Linked DNA regions of Homo sapiens: regions 2 and 3 are each linked to region 1. Evidence: fine-mapped expression QTL. A gene starts in region 1. Each other region holds a variant in brackets. All regions are shown on one strand. Distances are between the middles of the regions. Region 1 holds the start of DOCK7 (dedicator of cytokinesis 7). Region 2 overlaps DOCK7 (dedicator of cytokinesis 7). Region 3 overlaps DOCK7 (dedicator of cytokinesis 7).

What was found. PIP is the estimated chance that this variant, and not a neighbour inherited with it, causes the effect.
Region 2: its variant is the best candidate, but not a certain one, in a credible set for the expression of DOCK7 in CD4 T cells (BLUEPRINT, PIP 0.58).
Region 3: its variant is the best candidate, but not a certain one, in a credible set for the expression of DOCK7 in NK cells (Gilchrist 2021, PIP 0.85).

Annotation. Positions count from the first base shown.
Region 1 is chr1:62,687,129-62,689,922 of GRCh38, reverse strand. DOCK7 (dedicator of cytokinesis 7) reads left to right here and starts at 1,537. Exons shown (of 50, transcript NM_001367561.1): 1 at 1,537-1,696. The coding sequence starts at 1,659. DOCK7-DT (DOCK7 divergent transcript) reads right to left here and starts at 1,441. Exons shown (of 2, transcript NR_185999.1): 1 at 1,271-1,441. RefSeq lists an enhancer at 131-425 and a silencer at 1,435-2,184.
Region 2 is chr1:62,492,011-62,494,510 of GRCh38, reverse strand. DOCK7 (dedicator of cytokinesis 7) reads left to right here. Exons shown (of 50, transcript NM_001367561.1): 40 at 44-236; 41 at 1,664-1,807. Among named protein-coding and RNA genes, the nearest start is that of USP1, 56 kb to the right of the region's middle. The variant A/G (reference allele first, on the strand shown) is at 1,524.
Region 3 is chr1:62,460,391-62,462,890 of GRCh38, reverse strand. The region is part of intron 48 of DOCK7 (dedicator of cytokinesis 7); the gene reads left to right. Among named protein-coding and RNA genes, the nearest start is that of USP1, 25 kb to the right of the region's middle. The variant A/TATTTTATTTA (reference allele first, on the strand shown) is at 1,214.

The DNA.
Region 1 (2,794 bases):
AACAGTGTGTTACTGGAGGGCGCCTTGGCAAGAGCCTGTGGTACTAGCTACTCCTCCAGAGGCTGAGGCAAGAGGATTGCTTGAGCCTAGGAGTTTTAGGCTGCAGTGCCCTATGCATTCCATGCTTGAGCAACACAGGGGGATTCTGTCTAAAATAAATAAATCAATAAATAAAAGCAGTGTGTTACTGCAATGAGCATTGTTATATAAATACACAGTCTTCCACAGAAGTTACAGCACTAGACAGGAAGTTATGGATCTGACTAATTGAGGCTTTCACCTCTGACTCAGTGTGTGACTCTGGCAAGTGACCTAATGGCTCCAAGCTACAGATTTTCCAATGGTAAAAGAGAGGAAAACAGGTATCCAACATATTCCACCAGGACATACTGAGAATATAATAATAACAATAAATAAATACACATTTTAAGTTCTTGCAATACTTAAGAGGAAAGGTACTACAAGAAACCAAGATATTTTTCTTAGTGTCACCATAATTTCAGTATCAACAGATATGCATTAGGAGCCAAATATTCTAGACATTATGGGATTACAACAGAACAGATGAAAACAAATCTCTGCTAGTCTCTGTTTTATAGGCTATTATGGACAAGGTCAGTTTCAGTGGTCAACACAGAGCTTATTTAACAGAACATCAAAATGGGGGTGAACGTTAGAGCTCACCTGGATTTTATATATATATATATATATATATATATATATATATATATATATATATATATGTATGTATGAGAGACAGAGAGAGATCCAAAAGGGGTTAATAATACGGAAACAACTGTCCTCAAAGAAAAGAACCGGCTCTGGGTTTGAGTCTCAGTGGAAGAGTTTACCATCTGTGCGACCTGGGGCCAGTCACTTAGCTTTTCCAAGCCAATTTCCTTCCCTCTAAAATAGTGATAGTAACGATCTACTTCAAAGCGCTCGTGCTTGAAAAACTTTAATCCAGTGGCTGGCTAAGCACCAGAAGTCAACTATTACTATTGTTATCGCTGCAGGAGCAAGGTATTTTCTGGCTCTTTCTCTATAAGAAAAACCACTGTTTCTCCAGTTAGGCTGCATTCATGAGGCCGAAGCAGAAACCCAAGTGCTTTAAAAAGCTCGGAGACCGGTGCTGCAGAAACATGAACCCAGTCATCCAGGGCTTTGGTTAAAGCACAGCCCCCTCGGCAAAGCCCACCTTTCATTTCCTTCCCTTCCATTTCGGGAAAGCCAAGCTCCCCCTACGCGTTCGGTTATCTTATTTTCTTGCCTCGCCAGGTCGCTGGCCTGTCTCTGGCTTCTCTCCGCGACCTCTCGGTCGTGCAGGCTCCGCGGCAGCGAAGCGGCTGGGGCTGGCGCCTCGCTTCCTCAGCGCTCCATTCTTCCCCTCGGCTCCCGCCGGCCGCAGCCGCCTTCCGCAGCCGGGGTTCCCGCCGGGATTGACGCGCTGGGGGAGGAGCGGTTTCTCGTTGCGCGCCTCTAAGGAACATTACGGCAGGGCTCGTTCCTGGCTCCGGCCGCCAGCCCCAGCCTCCCAGGTCCGGAGCCCGGACTGGCGGAGGCCGCGAGGGAGGGAGCACGAGCGAGGAGGCACGCGCCCGCCGGTCCGCACCCGGCCCGCCGCAGCCGCCGCCGCCGTCGCCGTCGCCGCAGCAGCCATGGCCGAGCGCCGCGCCTTCGCCCAGAAGATCAGCAGGTAAATATCCGGCGTGGGGCGCGCCGCCGCCGCCGCCCGAGAAAGAGCCGCGGAGTCCTCCCAGGCCTGGCCTAGGAGGCGGGTGGGTGTGGCGGGGCCGGCACCGGGATCCCGCGGCCTGGCTCGCGGCGGGGCGGAAGGGGTTCGGGGTGGCTGAGGGGGTAGCGGAGGCCTCGCGCCGCCCTCGAACCCCGGCCTTCAGCCCGCGCCCGCCGCTGAGCCTCGGCAGGGAGCGGAGAGGGCCGCGGACTCCAGCGCGCCCGCCTCCTCCTGCTCCTCGGCGGCCCGGGCCTGGACTTCTGCGGAGGTTTATGGAAGGGCGGTCGGCCGCTTCCCAAATTCTTTGTGTTCCCACCCCCGGGCTCGTCGGGGGCCGCCGCGGCGTTTCGCCCCCTCCCGTCTCTCCGCCCACCCCTCTTGGCCCCTAGAGGGTGCGGGGTCCGCCCTCCTCCACCCCAACAAAAGGAGAAACGCGCGGCGGCTCGGGGCGGGTGGGAGGCCGCCCCTCCTTCACGCGTCTCTCTCTTCCTGAGAAATCTGACAGGAACCCTCTTTGCACCCTCGGGCCAGGTTCAAAGTGGACTTGTGCGTCCAGGATTGAAAACGTGTGGACAGAATGAAAAGTTGAGAGCTGCGGGCTGCACCTTCGGTGTGCAGCTGCCGAATCCCTGACGGATTGCAGGCTGAAGCTTGTTCTGAGTTCGCCTGTGAATTTAACTGTGCGCCTGTGTTTCTCAGAGCACCCGAGAAGATGGATGATAGGCAGTGTTCTTTATACACTGACATCCTTTTATATGTTAGCAGTCTTGAAGTAAAGCAAGTGATTGCAGTCTTGAAGTAAAGCAAGTGATTGAGGTGGAGGTTTCAAAGCCTTTCACCTACTTGTGGTGGTTGGTTGCCACCTTTCTCCCACCCGCCAAATAAAAATTAAATGACAGAGGACTCTAATATTTGTAGAATTTCTTTGTGGAGTATACTTATGTATGAGACAGTAGACATTTTTGTTTTAATAAAATCATATTTGTGTGAATTATGATGTCCCAAGAAAAGAAGCATTCATATTAAATTACCTTTTTTTGTTTTGGGGCAGTTGTAGTT
Region 2 (2,500 bases), 200 kb after region 1:
TGGGAAGCACATACTAATGGAGAAGAATTTCTGTTCTAATTAGAATTGCCAAGGGTTACCAGACCTCTCCAGATCTGCGATTGACCTGGTTGCAGAACATGGCAGGCAAGCACTCAGAACGAAGCAATCATGCTGAAGCTGCACAGTGTCTAGTCCACTCAGCAGCACTTGTTGCTGAATATTTGAGCATGCTGGAGGACCGGAAATATCTTCCTGTGGGATGTGTAACATTTCAGGTAGGAATCTTCCAGATGTACATTAAATCAAGGTATATCTTTTTTTGGTTTTAGCTTTTCTCACTGGTGTTTAGATTTTTTTAGTTTATAAGGAAAGCTTAAAGACTTAAGCCAATGCTTCACAAGGTGAATTAACATTTCACAGTGATTGTCATTAATACATTTTTAAGGAGTACTTCTTGTTGATTCTCTTTCCACAGTTTCTTACCTCTGAATTATCAGCACTATGCTTATTTATTCTCTTTGTCTTTACTGCCTTGTAATCCGTTACATACTTTAACATCTATGGAAATGTATTACTGATAATCAGAATTCAGTAGAAATTCTTAATTGGCTTTTACTTCACATAGCAGATATACCAACATTCTCTATTCCCTACATAAAATATTAGATTATTTTATGACTAATACCATGACTCACAGATGAGTTTGCCCTCTAGTAGGGTACATAATTCTGACCCACTAGTTGAATTCTCTGCTTACCAAGAGTCAGTTATGCTTTGCTTTTCTTCAAAACCTGTTAATAGTAGGTTTGAGATATTATAAAATTTAGTTAAATGTTATATCTTCTGATGAAATCAGAATGCAAAAAGAAAGTTATCGTTTCTCGGAAAACAAAGTTGAATGTTTTACAAAGACTCAGGAAAGGTGAATCTCCAAAACAATTGCTGTTGAATTAACTGTGGGCCAGACAAATAGATTGGGGGAGGGGAAACTCCTAAAATTCTAGAATAATTTGATAATCTTTTAAGTTTTCACTCAAAAGAAACCAAAACTTGAAATCTTTAAAAAGAGTGTTGCCTTATCGGTATTTACCCAAAAGAGATTCCGTGGAAATCTGATCTGGAAACCCATACACACAAAGAAAAGGCCTTAGATCTACTTCAAAAGTTGATGAATGAGTGTACATCTACTGTAAATGTTTAGGTTAAAATAAAATAGGGTATGTATGTATCATTTCTTTTTTAGAAATAATGGCTGATTCCAATCTCATTGAATAAGAGGGCTTTTATTATACCTGACTTTTTTCATTAACTCCGTGTACATTAGATAAGTCAAGAGACCATTTTTGTACCCTTTTTCCTTTACAGAGAGTTTTGAAAAGATCAATTAAATAAATAAGAAAGACTATTGATGTCTCCTTAGATGTCTTATGTTATATTACAATTTCCTTTAGCCCATGATTTTTCTTAATTTTCTTTCATACAACTTTTTATTAAGAGAAAAGTTATCTAGCAATGGTGTTTTCATTTTATTATCATCTTCAAAATACAGAAAGTTTTTAGAG[A/G]TTTATCTTTTACCTTTATATCACTCTCCTTTTTTTAACCTAACCTGATAGTTACAGTTCATCTTCAGTTATTTCTTCTTATACATTTTTATGCTAGAAAATTCTGTTTCAAAAACCTTTTCAATATATTTTTTCCCTAGAATATTTCATCTAATGTTTTAGAAGAATCTGCGGTCTCAGATGATGTGGTATCTCCAGATGAAGAAGGTATCTGCTCTGGAAAATACTTTACTGAGTCAGGACTTGTGGGATTACTGGAACAAGCAGCTGCTTCCTTCTCTATGGTAGATGACTCTTGTTAATTCTTTTCCCACAGTTTCATACCTCTAATTATCAATGACATGTGTATTTATTCTCTCTGGCTTATGACCCTACTTTTCTTTAAAGATAATTTATTCTGGACCCAGTATGGTGGCTCATGCCTGTAATCTCAGCACTTTGAGAGGCTAAGACGGGAGGATTGCTTGAATCCAGGAGTTCAAGACCAGCATGGGGAACATAGTGAGATACCGTCTCTACAAAAAATTAAAAATTCACCAGGCATGGTGGCTCATGCCTGTGGTCCCAGCTACTTGAGAGGCTGAGGTGGGAGGATTGCTTGAGCCCAAGAGGTTGAGGCTGCAGTGAGCCATGATTATGCTGCTGCACTCCAGCCTGGACAACAGAGTAAAACCCTGTCTCCAAAAAAAGAAAAAAAAATTGTTTTTTATTTCAAGTCCCCTAAAAACTATCTAGGAAAAGATTTTCTTTCTAGATTCATTATTGGCTTACTCCTTTTCATCTTAATAATCTGTCACTTCCCCCAGTGTTCCAGTGGTTTGGCTCACTGCGGCCTCAAACTCCTGGGCTCAAGATATCTTCCCACCTCAGCCTCCTGGGTAGCTGGGAATACAGGGGCACAGGGGCACACCATCACACCTGGCTAATTGTTGTATTTTTTGTAGGGATGGGGTTTCACTTTGTTGCCCAAGATAGTC
Region 3 (2,500 bases), 230 kb after region 1:
GCCTGCAAGAGCCGGTGAGTGCCTGTAATCCCAGCTACACAGGAGGCCAAAGTAGAATGATGGCTTGAGGCCAGAAGTTCAAGTCTACGTAGTGAGACCCTATCTCTTAAAAAAAAAAATCCATTTGCAATTGATTTTTGTGTATGGTTCAAGGTAGGGATCAGTTTGATTTTTGTCCATACTGATAACTGATAATGATCTCAGTGCCATTTATTGAATATGGTATGAGATATGGTTTAGGTTTTTTTTCCCCTTACAGATATCCAGTTGACTCATTACCACTTATTTAAAAAGCATTCACAGGTTTGTGGTGAAAGTCTGGTTTGCTGTGTCATCACTATTATAAATTTCTTTCTTTCTGGTTTGCAGTGTCATCACTATTATAAATTAAGCACCCGTGTTTATGTGCCTATGTTTTTGGGATCTTTATTCTCCTACAGTACTCTATTTATCTCTCTTTCAGCTAATGTCATGCTCTCTTAACTACTGCCGCTTTATAATAAGCTTTGCCGTGTGGCAGAGCAATTCCTCTCACCTTGTTTTGTTGAAGGACTGTTTTTGGCTGTTTTCAATTTTATATAAATTTTAAATTTTAGAATCAATTTTTCACTCCATGCACCCAAAAAATAACCTGAATTTATAGATCAGTTGGAAGAGAATTGACATCAGTCCATGAATATGGTATATTTTTCCATTTACTTAGGTCTTTTAAATGTTTTCTTAATACTATTTAAATTTTTTGTGTAGAGGTCTTGTACATTTTAAAATTTATTCTTTAGTATATAATGCTTTTATGATTTTATTAATTTTTTTTTTTTTTGAGATGAGTTTTGTTCTTGTTGCCCAGGCTGGAGTATAATGGCAAGATCTCGGCTCACTGCAACCTCCGCCTCCTGGGTTCAAGCGATTCTCCTACCTCAGCCTCCCAAGTAGCTGGGATTACAGACATGTGCCACCACGCCTGGCAAATTTTGTATTTTTAGTAGAGATGCTGTTTCTCCATCTTGGTCAGGCTGGTCTCGAACTCCTGACCTCAGGTGATCCGCCCGCCTCTGCCTCCCAAGGTGCTGGGATTACAGGCATGAGCCACTGTGCTCGGCCTTAATGTTATCTTTCAAAATTGTGTTTTCTGTTTCCTGCTCTACCAAAAATCAGTTGACTTTTATTTTATTTTATTTTATTTTATTTTATTTTATTTTATTTTATTTTATTT[A/TATTTTATTTA]TTTTTTGAGATGGGGTCTCACTGTGTCACCCAGGCTGGAGTGAGTGCAGTGGTGTGATCATGGCTCACTGCAGCCTTGACCTGCTGGATTCAAGCGATCCTCCTGCCTCAGCCTCCCAAGTAGCTGGGACCACAGGTGTTCACCACTATACCTAATTTTATAGTGACAGAGTCTCACTATGTTGCCCAGGCTGGTCTCTCACTCCTGGGCTCCAGCAGTCCTCTGGTCTCAGCCTGCCAAAGTGCTGGGATTGCAGGTGTGAGCCTCTGTGCCCAGCTGCAGTTAACTTTATATATTACTTTTACATGAGAATTTTACCAGACTTACTTATTAATTCTAATAATTTATCTTATTAGAATTATTATCTTAATAGACTTATTAATTCTAATAATTTATCTGTAGAATCTTTTTCTTGTCTTATAATGATATTTAGGACGTCCAGTACTCTGTTGACTAGGAATAGAGAGGACATCATTTTCTTGTTCCTTCTCTAAAAGGGTTTTCACCACTAAGTATGTTTGCTACAGGTTTTTTGTAGATTTTTAATTATGGTTAAAGGACTACCCACCTATTTGTAGTTATGCAAAGAGTTTTTAATATGACAGGTTTTAAAAGTTTGTTATCAAGTGCTTTTATTCTGCATCTCCTTTAATCTTTTAATCTAAAAACTTAGTGATTTTATAACCCAACTTTTCATTTATTCCAGGAATTAATAAACTTGGCCAGTGTGGTACCTTATGCCTGTAAATCCCAGCACTTTGGGAGGCTGAGGCAGGCAGACCGCTTGAGCTCAGAAGTTTGAGACCAGCCTGGGCAACATGGCAAAACATTATCTCTGCTAAAACTACAAAAATTAGCCGGGCATGATGGTGCACGCCTGTAGTCCCAGCTAATTGGGAGGCTAAGGTGGAAGGATCCCTTGAGCCCAGGAGATCAAAGCTGCAGTGAGCTGAGATCGTGCCACTGCACTTCAGCCTGGGCAAAAGAGCAAGACCCTGTCTCAAAAAAAAAAGAAAAAAAGAAAAATACTTGGAGGGTGTGTGTGTGTGTGTGTGTGTGTGTGTGTGTGTGTTCAATACATTGGCACAAGTTTTCTGCTAAAATTGTCCATCAGTGTGCCTTCTGTGGATACCAAAATCTGAAGACAAGTTTAATATGTTATATAAAATGGTGTAGTATTTGTATATAACCTATGTACATCCTCCTGTATACTTTAAATCATTTTAGACTACTTAAAATACCTAATATATAATGTAAATAGTTGTTAATATTGTATTGTTTAGGAA